Regions from separate parts of the Homo sapiens genome. Here region 1 is linked to region 2. Evidence: fine-mapped expression QTL. A gene starts in region 2. The other region holds a variant in brackets. All regions are shown on one strand. Distances are between the middles of the regions. Region 1 overlaps TUBGCP2 (tubulin gamma complex component 2). Region 2 holds the start of ECHS1 (enoyl-CoA hydratase, short chain 1).

What was found. PIP is the estimated chance that this variant, and not a neighbour inherited with it, causes the effect.
Region 1: its variant is fine-mapped to the expression of ECHS1 in whole blood (INTERVAL, PIP 0.96).

The regions. Positions count from the first base shown.
Region 1 is chr10:133,276,988-133,285,263 of GRCh38, reverse strand. It overlaps TUBGCP2 (tubulin gamma complex component 2), which reads left to right. Exons shown (of 18, transcript NM_006659.4): 13 at 51-179; 14 at 1,262-1,382; 15 at 2,043-2,186; 16 at 2,922-3,041; 17 at 3,828-3,991; 18 at 5,363-6,629. The coding sequence ends at 5,498. Among named protein-coding and RNA genes, the nearest start is that of ADAM8, 4.3 kb to the right of the region's middle. RefSeq lists enhancers at 6,372-6,451, 6,942-6,991 and a silencer at 8,147-8,276. The variant G/A (reference allele first, on the strand shown) is at 3,843.
Region 2 is chr10:133,369,402-133,377,719 of GRCh38, reverse strand. It overlaps ECHS1 (enoyl-CoA hydratase, short chain 1), which reads left to right and starts at 4,366. Exons shown (of 8, transcript NM_004092.4): 1 at 4,366-4,474; 2 at 6,963-7,160; 3 at 7,689-7,816. The coding sequence starts at 4,387. MIR3944 (microRNA 3944) reads left to right here and starts at 6,057; the gene lies at 6,057-6,164. It overlaps LOC124902563 (a long non-coding RNA gene), which reads left to right. Exons shown (of 2, transcript XR_007062395.1): 1 at 1-1,060; 2 at 2,514-2,984. RefSeq lists an enhancer at 3,623-3,712 and a silencer at 4,094-4,603.

The DNA.
Region 1 (8,276 bases), 92 kb after region 2:
ACGCCGCCGGTCACGGAGGCCCACCTGAGGTGCCGCCACGTCTCTTGCAGGAAAGCCCTCACTCGCTACCAGATGCTCTTCAGGCACATGTTCTACTGCAAGCACGTGGAGCGGCAGCTCTGCAGCGTCTGGATCAGCAACAAAACCGCCAAGCAGCACTCGCTGCACTCCGCCCAGTGGTGCGTTCTTCCTCTGCCCCCGCATGCCCTCCTGAAGCAGCGCTCGCTGCACTCTGCCCAGTGGTGCAGCGCCCCCCTTGTGCCCTCCTGGTAGACAGCTTTCTAGGCTTCTGGAAGTGTCATCTGGAAGCGCACGTTGGTGGCTTTAGATCCATAATGCTTCATTGCTTCATTTTCCTGTCTTGGGGCTGCACGGCGCTGCCGTCCACCCCACAGGGGATGCTGGCTCTGTCCCTCAGCCCTCTCTGGAGCCTTGTGGTGACTGCACGGGCATGGAGACTGCCCAGGTCGGTGTGCAGGACACTAGCTCCTCCCGAGAGCGGACAGCCACATCTTGCTGGGACCAGAGGTGCTTTGCAGCCGGTCTGTGCCTCTAGGGTGTTGAAAAAAGGGGTCGATGGCAGAGCTTCATAAGAATTTGTCCAGTCGGGTGCAGTGGCTCATGCCTGTAATCTCAGCACTTTGGGAAGCTGAGGAGGGAGGATTGTTTGAGCCCACAAGTTCGAGACCCGCCTGGACAATGTAACAAGAGCTCATCTCTTAAAAAAAAAGAAAATTATTTTAATTAGCCGGGAATGCCTGTAGTTCCAGCAACTCAGGAGGCTGAGGTGGGAGGGTTGCTTGAGTCCAGGAGGTCAAGGCTGCAGTGAGCCAAGATCGTGCCACTGCACTGCAGTCTGAGCGACAGCAAGACCCTGTCTCTCGAAGAAAAAAAGAAATTAGAAGAAAAAGAACTCATCTTGATGATGAAGCACAAATATGCATCTGTTGTGTGGCACTTTCCTGGCGTGGGCTCCGAGGGGTCCGTCCACCAAGGAGCCCGCGTCCCAGTCTCCACCGTCCAGCTGGCTGGGGGTGTCCCTGCAGGGCACAGGTTGGTAGACGGTGACAGCTTGTGCTGGGCAGACGCAGGAGCAGCGGCCGTGAGTGTCTGGTGTGCTGGGAGGGGCGCTTGCTCTGCAGAGGAAATAGCCACGTCCAGAGAACGTCCTCCATGGCTGTCCTCCGTCCTCCGTGTCACTTGGTGGGCGCTGTCGGGGCCGCGTCCTCCATGGCTGTCCTCCGTCCTCCGTGTCACTCAGGTTTGCTGGGGCTTTCACTCTGCGGCAGCGAATGCTCAACTTCGTCCAGAATATTCAATACTACATGATGTTTGAAGTGATGGAACCGACCTGGCACATCCTGGAGAAAAACCTGAAATCCGTGAGTTTTAGCTCCACAGATAATAACGTTTGAAAGCCACTTTCCTTTCACAGGGAGACAGGAAGTGCAGGAGAGGCAGGGCGAGGGGAGAGGCAGGGAGTGCAGGAGAGGCAGGGAATGCAGGGAGACGCAGGGAGTGCAGGAGAGGCAGGGAGTGCGGGAGAGGCAGGGCGTGCGGGAGAGGCAGGGAATGCGGGAGAGGCAGGGAGTGCAGGGAGACACGGAGTGCAGGAGAGGCAGGGCAAGGGGAGAGGAAGGGATCCCCCAGGGCGGGGCTGCACCCACACTGCTGGCCACACACGGGACCCCTTGCTGCCTGCCGTCCTAGGGGGACTCTGAGCCGTCTTTGCCCCGAGGTTGTCTCTCCCACATTGCGCATCTGAGGCTGAGGGGCCTGAAGGCAGAATCTGTTGGTACCAAATTCCAGAAGCTGCCGCAGCCTCCCTTCCTGTCTTCTGCCTTAAGAAATGAAACCCCTTCGGGGTGTGCCCATCATTTTTTTAGTGGTGTTTGGAAGTTTTCCCCTAAAAGCCCAAGGCCCATTTAAGAGGTAGAAGTGCGTAAACAGGAATGCACAAAGCCAGAACTGAGCACGTGCGCATGCAGGGCCCGTCTGTCAGCCACGTCTTTCTGAGAAGGGGCTTGGCCTGTTCCCCGCAGGCCTCCAACATTGACGACGTCCTTGGCCACCACACAGGCTTCCTGGACACCTGCCTGAAGGACTGCATGCTCACCAACCCCGAGCTGCTGAAGGTCTTCTCCAAGCTCATGTCTGTGTGCGTCATGTTCACCAACTGCATGCAGGTGCGTGGGTGTGGGTAGCACCATCGGGTGGGCAGGCGCGGGTGGGCAGACCATGTCCCGACCGTGGCCGCACGCAGCCTGCTCACGTTTTCCTGCCCTTGTGTTCGTGGAGGAGCCGCTGGGATCTGAGTGTTTCCAGAACTCCTGGTCTTCCTGGCCGGGTGATTCCCTCCTGGAGCCCCTGCCCTGGCAGCGTGGGCAGGGCTGTGTTCCTCCCGAACCATCCCTCAGCCTCTGTGGTGCTGGTCTCTGTCCGGGGCCTTTGCTTATGGCCCTTGCATGCTCTTTTCCTCAGCACTTGAGCTATTTGATTCCGTTAAGGACCTGCAGGCACTAGTCACAAGCAGCTGCCGACTGGCGATGGTGCAGAACCTGCGTGTCTAGTGGCAGAAGCAGGGGTCTGAGAATGAGGCTCTCCAGGCAGTGCCATGGGGAGGGTCCGGAGGAGGGCGAGTGGGGAGGTGGAGGAGGGCATGGCCACTTCAGGGTCCCAAATAGGGAAACACCAAAATAACTGTTCTCAGGAAAATCAGCTGGTCACCGTGGAAGGTAGACCTGGGAATTCTGTCGGCACAGATAAGTCATTTCCCCTGCAGCCTCAGAGATGCTTGTGTACCCCCAGCCGCAGGCTACAACAGAGGTGCGGAGGGTGACGTGCCTGCAGGACTTGTTTTTTCTGCAAAGCATTGTGGTTGTAACTAACAGAAGCATTTCCTTGCGACTCTCCCCCCCTAGAAATTTACACAGAGCATGAAATTAGATGGCGAGCTGGGCGGGCAGACGCTGGAGCACAGCACCGTCCTGGGGCTGCCCGCAGGGGCCGAGGAGCGGGCCCGGAAGGAGCTCGCCAGGAAGGTGCGTGGCCTCCAGGTTTGGCCAGAGAGAGACGCTTCCTCCCGGCTGGGCGGCAGCCTGGGCATCCTGACGCAGGGAGAACAAACCTCCCCCCTTTTACTTCCATCTCCCCTCAGATTGAAGAAAAGACTTAAAATTAGCTTCCAAGCACAAGCACAAGAGCCTCTCACAATCTTCTCAGCTCTCTGGTCCCCACTTCAGCCAGTCGGGCTCGAGGGAACCCCCACAGATCTTCAGAGCGAGCGCTGTGCAGGGCGCCTGGGCGAGGGCAGGGGCCACACCCGCTGTCCCTGCTGAGCTCGGTCCTGAGTTAGAACCGTCAGGCTCTCAGCAGGCACGGACAGGCTGCATGTCCTCGGAGGCATGGCCCTGCGGCGCCGGCTCCGGGGTGGCATGGTGGGGTGGGCAGTCCCGTGTTCACACGCTGGAGCTGGAGCTGGCAGAGAGGAGTTGGGTTTGGAAGCGTGGGGGCCGGAGGTGAGGGACACTGAGAGGCGCCCCGACCTCCTTGCTGAGAAAGCTGCTGGGAAAGCTCGTTCATCTCACCCCAAAGGAGAGTGACCACCTCATCCCACGAGGCCTGGAGTGTTTCTCTGAGTGCTGGGTTCTCAGGAATGTTTTTTGATGTCTTTTTTACCTTGAATCTCCTGAAAACATCATGGAACCCATGTTTTCTATTTAAGAAAAGGGGAAGGGAAAGGACACCGGCCTGCTGGGAACAGTGTGGAGCCAAGAAGGCCCACGGTGGGGGTGGGCATGGCTCACGCACCCCGGCTTTCTTTCCAGCACCTGGCTGAGCAC[G/A]CAGACACTGTGCAGCTGGTGTCCGGCTTCGAGGCCACCATCAACAAGTTTGACAAGAACTTCTCAGCCCACCTGCTGGACCTCCTGGCCCGGCTGAGCATCTATAGCACCAGTGACTGTGAGCACGGCATGGCCAGCGTCATCTCCAGGTGGGTGGGCGCCACCCCGGCTCAGCCCTTCCTCAGCTCAGTCCAGCGCCTGCCCCTGCCCAGCACCGCCCTGGCTCAGCCCTTCCTCAGCTCAGTCCAGCACCTGCCCCTGCCCAACACCGCCCTGGCCCAGTGCTGTCCCTGCTCAGCCGTCCCCCAGCTCAGCCCAGCACCTGCCCCTGCCCAGCACTGCCCTGGCCCAGTGCTGCCCCGGCTCAGCCTTCCCCCAGCTCAGCCCAGCACCTGCCCCTGCCCAGCACCGCCCTGGCTCAGCCCTTCCTCAGCTCAGTCCAGCACCTGCCCCTGCCCAACACCGCCCTGGCCCAGTGCTGTCCCGGCTCAGCCTTCCCCCAGCTCAGCCCAGCGCCTGCCCCTGCCCAGCACCGCCCTGGCCCAGTGCTGCCCCGGCTCAGCCTTCCCCCAGCTCAGCCCAGCGCCTGCCCCGGCTCAGCCCTTCCTCAGCTCAGCCCAGCATCTGCCCCAGCCCAGCGCCACCCCAGCTCAGCACCTGTCCCTGCATCCAGGCCCCATCTCCCCTGCACCCTCCCCTGGTCCACCTGGTGTAGCCTCCTTCAGAAGGTGGGGCAGGTCTGTGTCCTGGTGCTAGTGCTGGTCATATGCCACTCCCTGAAGTCAGGCTAGCCCAGCTCTCCCTGGGGTGTGACATTCTGTGCAACTGGGCTGCCCCATTGGCACCCTGCGGCTGTGTGTGTCCTGTGGGGCTGATCAGGCCTGGGTCAGCTTCCCTCATGCTGCACTAACACCTAGCCTGGGGGAAAGGGCCAGGTGGCCAAACTGCCAGCCTGGAAGGGGTGGTGCCCTTGGGGGTGCTGTCCTTGGGAAGGTGCCTATTTGTGCTTTTGGACCACCCTGTGCCCTGTGCCCCCCACAAATGTTCTGATTTTCTGAGCAGGGATTTCTGAGGCCACCCTGCATTGAGAACCACTGCTTGGTTCTCCAAGCCCCTGACACCTCAGGCCCCATTGCTAGGCCCTGTTGGGGTGATGGGAGCCCCAACTTTCTGGGGCCAGGAGAGAAGAAACCTGTGTTTGTGCCTTTGAGCAGGACTGAACAGGACTGAAAACCTTCCTGTGGAAACATTAGTTAGGAGCGTGCCTCACCCTCACCCCTGCAGGGCCTCTTATGGTCTCTGTAGCTGAACACTTCCCCATGGTAGGAGCAGGGCTGCTCAGGACGGACCCGCAGAAGGAGTGTGTGCCCCAGCTCCACTGTCCTTCCTCACCCCTGCTGCCCAGCACGCACCCGCAGAAGGGGTGTGCACCCTAGCTGCACCGTCCTTCCACACCCCTGCTGCCCAGCATGCACCCGCAGAAGGGGTGTGCACCCCAGCTCCACTGTCCTTCCTCACAGGCTTGACTTCAATGGTTTCTACACGGAGCGCCTGGAGCGCCTGTCTGCAGAGAGGAGCCAGAAGGCCACCCCCCAAGTGCCTGTCCTGCGGGGGCCCCCGGCTCCTGCACCCAGGGTCGCAGTCACCGCACAGTGAGCCCTGGCTGTGACAGGAAGGAAGGGTGTGGGGTCAGCAGGGACTGGTGCAAATGGGTCCAGAATTTTCAAATCGAATGCTCTGTGTTCTGTCTTTGCAGTTTAAATATAAAGCAGGAATGATTGACTCAGCTCACTTTGTTTCTCAAGGCGCTGGGTTTCGTTTTATAGAAGCTGCCCAGGCAGGGTGGATGTCTCCCTGGATTTGCTAATCTGTTTGCTTTTTGAAATTACACTATCACCTTTTTGGGTGTTTTTGGCCTCAAAGTGGAAATACATGGTGTTTAAGCCAGGAGCAAGCAAAGATGCATGTGGGGTAAGATCCAGGCCTGGTGTCCACATCTTTCCGGGTGAGCTGGGGCCGGGCTTCCTGAGGTCTGTCGGAACCGGGACAAGCCTCTGGAAACGGTCAGGGAGTTGTGGAAACCCACCGGGCATCGGGTGTCGGGTTTGCTTTGGCCCCAGAGGCAGCCCCGTTCCTTCTCCTGAGGACTCACCCGCCTCCACGACCCTCCTCCTGCTGCTGCTCCAACTGGTCCAGGGCAGGAGGCCACAGACAGGGCCCTCAGGCACCCTGGGAGCCCACACCTCCCCCTCCGTGGGAGTGGGTCGAGGGGCAGGCTCTGCTGCTGGCTGGAAACCCCACCCCGCCCTATCCGGTACCGCCTTGTTACGTAGAACTTACTCAGCAGACTGACACCCAATCCCCCTCGGGCGATCATCTGCCCTGTCTTCCCACCTCCAGGGCTACAGTGGGCAGCACCGCCATCCCCAGTGTGACAGGGCCCTGGGAGCCTCAGGGCTGCCCGGCCAGGTTGGTCTGCTCTGGTTACATTCTGGCCAAGCTGCCCCTTCCTGCTGACCTGCATGTGTATTGTTGTCACCTTCAGCTCTCAGCACCTCGGCCCCCTTGGGCAGTGAGGAAGGGCCCTGGAGGCGAGGTTGGGAGAAAGGATAGCTAGAACAGGATCCTGCGGGGAACAAGGGTTGTGGGCAGCTCTCACCCGGGGCTGCCTCACTGAGAGCACCGCCGAGTGGGGGTGGGGGTGTCCAACTCTCCAGCCACAAACCGCTTCCTCCTTGTCTGCAGGCTGTGCAGGTCTGGCCTGTGAGTAAACACATTTATCAGCAACCCAAGCTGTCAGTCTCAGTGTTGTGCAAATGCCGGACTGGTGAGCAGAGGAGCCTGCTAGCTTTCCTGCCTGGCCCCGAGGCCCAGAAACCCCTGATCTTGTGTCCTGGGGTCTGGGAAGCCCTGGGCCTTGAGAAGTGGGGTTTGCAGGTGGTGATAGGAGGAGGGGAGGGAAGCCTCCAGGGCTGTGGGGTTCAGGCTCCCAGACCCCCCGGCACCTGCTGAAGAGGAGAGCTGTGTTCTGTGGGATTGGGTGGAACTTCCTCAGCGCGGGAGGAGCCTGTTCTGGCCCAAGCTGGTCCTGTCTTTTTAGGAATAAATCCCTGGTAGCTCAGCGTCGGCAGGGGCCTTGCTGTGCCTCTGATGTGGCCAGCGTGCCGCCTTTGCACTTTGCTGTTGAGTAACTTGCACCATGAGGTCAAGGAAGGGAAGTGTGATTGCCAGCTGGCCATTGTTCTATAATAACAGGGTCACCTGCATGAGCTCAGGCACAGGCCAGTATCCCCAGCCCTACCTGGGAGCCTCTCGGCAGCCTGGGGGACCTCGTCCTGTGCCACACAGGCAAGCGGACACACCCCCAGGCAGCAGAAGTCACCTGCGGCCCAGTGCCAGCCCTTGCTTTCTTGCTTTTCATGCCATTCACATTAGGGTAAGAATGGCTTTGAGACAAAATGTGACAGCATCACTCACGCCAGCTTAGATCCTCCGGGTTCCCTGTCCTCCCAGGATAACGTCCGAGGCCCCGGCCTCTTCTTGCCACTGCCCCTTGACCTCTGTCCTCTGCCCCTAGGCCCGTGCAGTTCCCTGACTCGCCCTGCCCTGGTGCCCTCTCTCCAGGCAGGACTCCCTCCAGCCCCTTGCTGGCCCTGCCCTGCCTCTCCCCAGGGAGGCCCTGAGGCCCCCCCCCCCCATGTGATCTGTCAGCAGCGCCCTGTGTGGTCATCTGAGCTGCCTTTCCTGCCACCACCACTGTTCCCACTCCAGGAGGGCGGCCTGGCTGTGAAAGCCCCAGGGAGGGGTCCTGGGTGGACCGTCTGGGGAGCTGTGGTGTCAGCCCAAACCTGCACCCTCGAGGCTGAGCCCACCACGGGGAATGTGGTCACCAAGGGCAAGCACGCTTGGCCGCAGGCCTGGAGACGCCGGAGCCAGGCCACGGTGGGCTGCTGCAGGCTTTGGTCCACGTCGGCCAGCGTCAGCTGCTGTCTGGGGATCTTAGGCTAGGGACGGCCCCTGCACCTGCCATCACCTGGGCTGGGACCCCCACCTAGGGCTCCCCCTCCCCACTTGGACGCCTGCGGGCCCATGCCTATCCCACTCCGGTGAGGCCTCAGCCTGGTGGAGGGGGCGCAGGCTTGGGGGGGAGGGTGGCAGAGCTTCCCACAGGGCTGAACCTATGCCCACAAAGCCATGACTTGCCCCTGCCTGAGGCTTTCTGTTCCCCAGGAAATCAGAGACCCCCTCTCCTGAAACCGCCAGGCGGCCCTCACAAGTCCCTTCCCCTCCAGGACCTGCCTGGCGCCACCTCCTTCCAGCCGCCGGGTCCTTCGAGAGGCCCCCTCTCGGGGCTCTGGCCGGACTTGGGACAGGCTGTGCCTGAGTTTCCTCACCTGTGCAAGGGAGGATGCTGGATTGTGGGGAGAGGGGAAA
Region 2 (8,318 bases):
GTTCTGAATTCCACAGATGAACTGGGTCCCCCACGGGTATGGCCAAGGGAACGGCCCACTCCCTAGTGGCTCCGTGTGAAATCGAGCTGCTGCTGCTCTCGCCGCAGGGCCCAGCTCACTGCCCAGACATAGGAGCACATCGCCCTGCGCACAGGCTGGGTGGGCACAGCTGTGAGGGAGGCCACCCCATGCCTCAGGCCTCCTGCACAGGCGTGGGCCTCGCCACTCTGGGTGGACAGGCTACTTTGGCCCCTCAGCCTCTGGGGACTGCTGCCCTGTTTTCAGCACCGTGTCAGGCACCATCTGGTCAGCCAGCTCCTCCAGCCCCGAGACTCCCGTGTCCTCATTCTCCTGGGCCGTTACGGTCGGCCAGTGCCCAGCCTTTGCTGGAAGGCTGTCCAGGCTGGGCTCTGGTCAGGCATCGATGTCCCCCAGGCACCTGGCCTCACCTCGCGTTGGGACAGCCTCTGCAAGATGGAACAGGAAGGGTCTGGCTTTGCCTCTGTCACCTTCTCCCGGTCCATCATGTCCTCCTGGCCAGCCCGTTCCTGGTTCCTGCGGGGAGCCCAGCCCGAAGGGGAACCGAAAGATTCTAACTTAACTCTAGTTCAGCCTCCCGGATCCTCCTGTGGAGCGGCAGGATCCCATAAAAGATACTTGGCTCAGCAACTTGCTGGCCAAGCCTCCCCACAGCGGTCCACACAGGCCAGAGGTAAACATGCCCATGCCCCACACCTGGAAGGCCTGGTGCAAGGAGGGGTGATTGTAGTGACTGAAATGGGAACTCTGGCTTTATGGCGCGGAGAGAGAAGACATGGACCCAAGAGCTGCAGGGTGGGGACAACCGACGCGCTCTTTGTCCCCTGGATGTGGTGCCACAGCCTGAATCCAATAGCACGGGCCGCTGACGCGCTGACCTGGGGCTGGGTTAGTCGCTCGTCCCCCTTGCTCTGAAATGGAGAGTGCACGTGACCACGGCCAGTCCTGGACAATCCTGCCATGCCAGAGCCACCAGCTGGAACACACGGACACAACCTCTTTTCCATCTGACTGGTACAAGGTATGTGCTTCTCCTAGCTCCAGAGGGCCTTGGGTGATGCCACCTATGGTGATCAAGGTGGCAACTACCCATGTGGCTTTGACTGAATCAGGCTTGTTCATTTTTTAAAATAGCTTTATTGATATAGACATCATGCTGTAAGACTTCTCCCGTTTAAAGTGTTCAATTCAATGGTGTTCAGTTTAGTTACAGAGTTGTGCCACTGTCACCATCATCCAGTTTAGAACTTTTTTGTTTTGTTTTGTTTTTTTGAGATGGAGTCTTGCTCTGTTGCCCAGGCTGGAGTGCAGTGACACTACCTTGGCTCACTGCAACCTCTGCCTTCCAAGTTCAAGCAATTCTCCTGCCTCAGCCTCCTGAGTAGCTGGGATTATAGGCATGTGCCACTACGCCCGGCTAATTTTTGTATTTTTAGTAGAGACGGAGTTTCACCATGTTGGACCAGGCTGGTCTCGAACACCTGACCTCAGGTGATCCACCTGCCTTGGCCTCCCAAAGTGCTGGGATTACAGGCGTGAACCACTGCGCCTGGCCCCAAGTTTAGGACATTTTCATCACCCTAAAAAGCAAATGGGGATGCCCCTCAGCAGTCCCCCCCATTACCCCTCCCTCCAGCCCCTGGTGACCGCTAATCTAGTTTCTGTCTCTGTGGATTTGCCTGTTCTGTACATTTCATAGAAATGGAACCTATTCAATGCACGGCCTTTGTGTCTGGCTTTTTTTACTGAGCATAACATTTCCAAGGCTTGTCCATTTTGTAATGTGTATCAGCGCTTCTTTCTTTTTTACTCCTGAATAGAGTCCATTGTATAGTCTAATACATTCTAATGTATCCATTGTTTGGATATATGACATTTTGTTTATCCATTCATGAGTTGATGGACAATTGGCTTTTTCCCTCTTTTTGGCTATTATGAATAATGTTGCTATGAACGTTCATGTCTAAGTTTTTGTGGACATTTGTCTTCATTTCTCTGAGGTGTACACCTAAGAGTGGAGTTGCTGTTTGACCTTTTGAGGAAACAACAGACTGTTTTCCAAAGTGACTGCACCATTTTCCATTCCCGCTGGCAGTGTACCAGCGTTCCCCGCTCACGTCCCCCACAACCCGCTGTGACTGTTGGGCTTTTTATTGCAGCCAGCACAGTAGGTGTGACGTCGTATCACTGAGGGGTCAGTTTGCATTTCCCTAATGATTCGTGATGCTGAGCTTATCTGACACTGATTATCTTCATTGGAGGAATGTCTGTTCAGTCCTCTCACTATCTTGGTAGTGTCCTTTCAGACATAAAAGTTTTAAATTTTGGTGAAATCCAATTTACATATGTTCTCCCTTTGTTGCTTGTGCTTTTGTGGCTACATTACTTGATGGAGGACGGGAGCTGCCCGGCCTCCTGGGTCGTTAGAAAGGAAACCTCTTGGCGGACACGGTGGTCCACTCCTGTAATTCCAGCACTTTGCGAGGCCGAGACCGGTGGATCACTTGAGGTCAGGAGTTCGAGAACAGCCTGGCCAACATGGCAAAACTCCCGACTCTACTAAAAAACTACAAATATTAGCCGGGCATGGTGGTAAGCACCCGTAGTTCCAGCTACTCAGGAGGCTGAGGCAGGAGAATCGCTTGAACCCGGGAGGCGCAAGCTATGATGAGCCGGGATGACACCACTGCACTCCAGCCTGGGTGACAGCGAGACAAGAAAGAAAGGAAAGAAGAGAAGGTGAAGGAGAAGGAAGGAAGGAAATAAACCTCTTTTCTGTCTGAGCCATTTCATTTTGGGCCTGTCTGTCCCAGAGGTTTAACTACACTAGTATAGAGCATCGTTTACTAAAGGTTTGTTGAGGTTTGTTGTTGATTTGTTTCTACTTACACGAGATGTCTTCATTTTTACCCTCGGTCTTGAAATAAAATTTTGGTGCATGTTCATTTTTGGTTTGAATTGAATTATTTTCTTGAACATAGTGAGGCAGGAGAACAGGGTCTGGAGGCCAATTCATGCTGACTCCCTAGAACTAAATCAAATGGAAACACTTCCGCTATGACAAGAAGTGTCCTCTCCATTTACACAGGGCGTACACCAAGTAACCAATGGAAACCTCTAGAGGGTATTTAACCCCCCCAAAAAATCTGTAACGGGGCTCTTGAGCCGCTATGCTCAGCCGCTCCCACAGTGTGGAGTTATTTTCGTTGTCTTTTCTTGTTTCTTTTTTGAGACGAAGTCTGGCTCTATCGCCCAGGCTGGAGGGCAGTGGTGCGATCTCGGCTCACTGCAACCTCCGCCTCCCGGATTCAAGCAATTCTCCTGCGTCAGCCTCCCGAGTAGCTAAGACCACAGGCGTGCACCACCACGCCCGGCTAATTTTTGTGTTTTTAGTAGAGAGGGGGGTTTCACCATGTTGCCCAGGCTGGTCTCAAACTCCTGACGTCAGGTGATCTGCCCGCCTTGGCCTCCCAAAGTGCTGGGATTACAGGCCTGAGCCACCGCGCCCGGCCACACTTTTGTTTTCCATAAATCTCGCTTTTGTTGCTTCCTTCTTTCCGTGCTTTGTTTGTGCGTTTTGTCCAGTTCTTTGTTCAAGACGTCAAGAACCTGGACACCCTCCACCGGTCACAATAGCAGTTTCGCTTTCCATTCCATTTTATCCAGGGTGGTTTTATCTCCACCCTGGCGTTTGCAGAATCCGGGCAAGTACACAAATGGATGCTCCACAATACTTGTCTAGATATTTAAAAGGTATAAATAAAATAACTTAAATGAATGAAATTTTTATTATTTAAATCTGTTGAAGTCTTGTGTGCATGAAAATAAAACTCCTCCTAATGTGGCGTTCAGTGCCCACGCCGCTGCCACCGTGCCTGGCCCTGCGCCTGGGCGCGCTGTGTCCGCTGCTACAGACGCCGGCGGGCAGGCGGGCAGGCGGGCAGGCGGGCAGGCGGGCAGGCGGGCAGGCGGGCAGGCGGGCGGGGGGAGGCGGCGCAGAGCCCGGCAGGCGCCGCCGTTGCCTCCGCCTCCGCGCGGTCTCCCCGGGGCCAGCTGGGACCCCGAGGGCTGGGGCGGGGGCGGGGGCGCGGGCGACTGCGGCGGGGCCTGGAGGGCGCTGGTCCCAGCCCAGGGCGGGGTCCCGGGGACGCCCCTCGGCCTTAGATCCGCGAGCGGCAGCTCGGGCCTGGGGGCGGGGCCTGGCGGAGAGCGACCCGCTCACTCTGCCCGGGCTGATCTCGCGAGGGCCGCCTGGTCTCGCGGCGCTGGCCTGTGGGCGGAGCGAGCCCTGAAAGGCTATAGGCGAGGGGGCGGCTCCGCGGGGCCGGGCGAGGAGTCCAGAGAGCCATGGCCGCCCTGCGTGTCCTGCTGTCCTGCGTCCGCGGCCCGCTGAGGCCCCCGGTTCGCTGTCCCGCCTGGCGTCCCTTCGCCTCGGGTGAGTGCGCGGTGAGAGCTGGCGGCCCGAATCTCCTCCTGACTCCGACCTGCACGCCCAGACCAGATCCCAGACCGCACCCCCCTCCCACCTGACCCCGCATCCCCCACCTGACCCCAACCCACACCCCTCTTCCGCCTGACCCCGCACCCTCACCTGACCCCTACCCGCACCCCACTCCGCCTGACCCCGCACCCCCCCGCCTGACCCCGCACCCCCCCACCTGACCCCGCACCCTCCGGCCTGACCCCTACCCGCACCCCACTCCGCCTGACCCCGCACCCCCCCACCTGACCCCGCACCCCCCGGCCTGACCCCGCACCCCTCTTCCGTCCGATCCCGCATCCCCAGGGCCTGACTCCGCACTCTCCTGCCTGACCCCGCACCTACCACCTGACCCCGACCCGCAGCCCCTGCCTGGCTCAGGCCTGCAACACCCCCCTCGCCTAGTGCTGCACCCCCCACCTGACCCGCACCCACAGCCTGACCCAGGCTTAACACCCCCCCACCACCCGCCACCCCGCACCGACACCACCCACCTGACCCTGGCCCGCACCCCCACCCCCTGCCTGGCTCTGCAGGAGGCCACTCTCACCAGGCCACGTCCTGCGGGAGGCCCGGCGGCTGGCTGGTACTGCCCCAGTGCCAAGACCTCTGGCCAACTGGGCGCAGGGTGGGGGTTGTAAAAATCCGGGGTGTTCCCTCGGCTCTAAGAGCAGGCGTAGCTCCTGTGCAGCCGGCCAGCCCGAGAACAGGAGATGCAGGTGCATTTTGTCCTGGGTGCCTCCTGACCAGGGCCACCCCTCAGAGGGTCCTAAGGGAAAAGCTGACACCTCCTCCCCAGCCACAGGGGGCTGCCCTCTTCCTCCCTCGTGGCTCACCCGGGGCCCCACTCATGAGCGGCCATCACCGGCTCTAGTATCTGAGGAATCTTGGGCCATGCCTTGGGCTGGGGAAGAACTCTTGCTTCCTCTTCCTCCCTCACCCTGTGTAGCAGTGGACCACTGAGTTGTGTTGGTTTCATCTCCATGCTCTCCTTGGCCTTCGGCTTCTCCACCCTGACAGCAGCCCTTTCCTGGATCTTGCATGGCGGGCACTGCTGCCAGACACTTCACCTGTGATCTTCCAGTTACCCCTAGAAACCCACAGGATACGGCGGGGCACAGTGGCTAATGCCTATAATCCCAGCACTTTGGGAGGCTGAGGCAGGTGGATCACCTGAGGTCATCAAGACCACCTTGGCCAACATGGTGAAACCCCATGTCTACTAAAAATACAAAAATTAGCCAGGTGTGGTGGTGTGTGACCGTAGTCCCAGCTACTCGGGAGGCTGAGGCAGGAGAATCACCTGAACCCTGTAGGCAGAGGTCGCAGTGAGCCAAGATTGCGCCACTGCACTCCAGCCTGGGCAATAGAGTGAGACTCGGTCTCCAAAAAAAAGAAACCCATAGCACAGGGACTATGATCCCTGCTCTGCCACTAACGGAGGCAAGCATCCAACACACAGGCTACCTTTGTCTTTTCAGGTTCACCTTCTCACCCCTGGAACGCCATTGTCCTTTGTCTCCTTCCCACCTTGCTGTCCACCCAGCAGGCGCAGGTCCTGTGCAGCAGGCCAACCGAGAAGCGCCTGCGTCTCCCATTTTCGGGCTGGCCTGCTGCTCCGGACCTGTGCCTGATCTTAATGCTGCAGGAACACCCAGGATTTTCACATCCCCCACCCTGCGTCCAGTTGGCCAGAGGTCTTGGCACTGGGGCGGTACCAAGTGCAAGGAGCTGCCTTACACCCCCTCACCTGTTGGCATTTGTTGAAAGAAGGTGTTTCCTGGTGCCTTGTCTCAGCAGAGTCCAGGGCTGTCTCCAGAGTGGTGTCCTGGGAAGAGCTGACCAAGGCATATTAGGAGAAGGAAAGCGGCTGTGGGCTGTGTTCTGTGCTGGGGATTTTTCTTTTTTTCTTTTCTTTTTTTTTGAGACGGAGTCTCACTCTGTCACCCAGGCTGGAGTGCAGTGGCATGATCTCAGCTCACTGCAAGCTCCACCTCCTGGGTTCATGCCACTCTCCTGCCTCAGCCTCCCCAGTAGCTGGGACTACAGGCGCCCGCCACAACACCCGACTAATTTTTTGTATTTTAGGTAGAGACGGCGTTTCACCGTGTTAGCCAGGATGGTCTCGATCTCCTGACCTTGTGATTCGACCGCTTCGGCCTCCCAAATTGCTGGGATTACAGGCGTGAGCCACCGCGCCCGGCCCGGGGATTTTCTTTAGGACATGTTCAAACACATGTGAAAGCAGAGAGAATGGTACCAAGGCTACCATCTATCCTTGTGGCTGAGAGCTACACCTGGAGCCACTGAGGACTCGGCAGGGAGCCCTCAGAGGGCCTCTTGGGGTCACACTGTATCCACCGATGGGGCCACATCCCTTCCCCCACTCTCCCCAGTTTGATACCTGTGTGAATAGATACCCCTTTTTGCCTTCTTGCTCCAGGTGCTAACTTTGAGTACATCATCGCAGAAAAAAGAGGGAAGAATAACACCGTGGGGTTGATCCAACTGAACCGCCCCAAGGCCCTCAATGCACTTTGCGATGGCCTGATTGACGAGCTCAACCAGGCCCTGAAGACCTTCGAGGAGGACCCGGCCGTGGGGGCCATTGTCCTCACCGGCGGGGATAAGGCCTTTGCAGGTACGCGCGGCAGCAGAGGCCTTTGTGTCTGGGCAGATGTGGGAGGCACGTATGGCCTTGGGAGAAGCCTCCAGACAGATTTGCGCCTCTGTGATGGCAGAGGCATGCGACTGGGGACTTCCTCAAATATCGAGTGAAGACGGTCATGGGAACGGCTTGCATGAGCAGCTTTGTGTATGCCAGAGAGCTGCATGTGCTCCACCAGCAAAACAGCTTCTTCAAAGGGGTTTAGGTCCTTGGCAGTCAGGCTTTGTGTGTGTCAAGGGCTTATGCCCTGACAAATATGCCTAGCCTCTGTGGGCGCCTCCCTTGCACCTGCTGCCTGCCTCAGGGCCCCTCTGCGTGACTTCTGTTCTAGCTGGCATTACAGCGTCCCTACAGCTGTCCACGTGGCCTGGTGTCAGCCGTGCCCAGCAACCCCACTGCCTGTGTCTGGTGTGCTCTGAAGTTCCTTGTTGGTCTGAGAGATATAGGATGGGTGGGCTCTCTGCTCTCTGGTAACTGGAACCTCCTTTCCACTCCTGCTAGCTGGAGCTGATATCAAGGAAATGCAGAACCTGAGTTTCCAGGACTGTTACTCCAGCAAGTTCTTGAAGCACTGGGACCACCTCACCCAGGTCAAGAAGCCAGTCATCGCTGCTGTCAATGGCTATGCCGTGAGTGTTGCTGCCAAGAGTCTCCTCCTCTCGTGGTTGAAGGAACCGTGCTGTGCATACACAGCATAACAGATTTTTATTTTGAAGAGGCCTTTAGTTCCCAGGCCAGCAGCCTCCTTTCCTGCCTCATGGTGCTAAAGAGCCAGGAACTGTGTGGAGAGGACACCTCCTGGCATCTGCTTTTTTCGTGGCTGTTCACCTGACAGCTTCTCCCCAGCAAGCCTCTCTTCCAGGGTGGGGGAAGAGAGGTGTTGGCTTTGGCTACATCTATAAACTAGCTTCTTTTGCTCCCCTTGAAAGCTCTGTGTCCTGGGACTATTTGAAGTGCTGAGACTGATCTTGGCCTATAGGGAAGGCAATGTGATCATTTCATGACGCTCCCTGCCGTGTAAGCCAGGGGTCTGCGGATTGTGATCATTTCATGACGCTCCCTGCCGTGTAAGCCAGGGGTCTGCGGATTGTGATCATTTCATGACGCTCCCTGCCGTGTAAACCAGGGGTC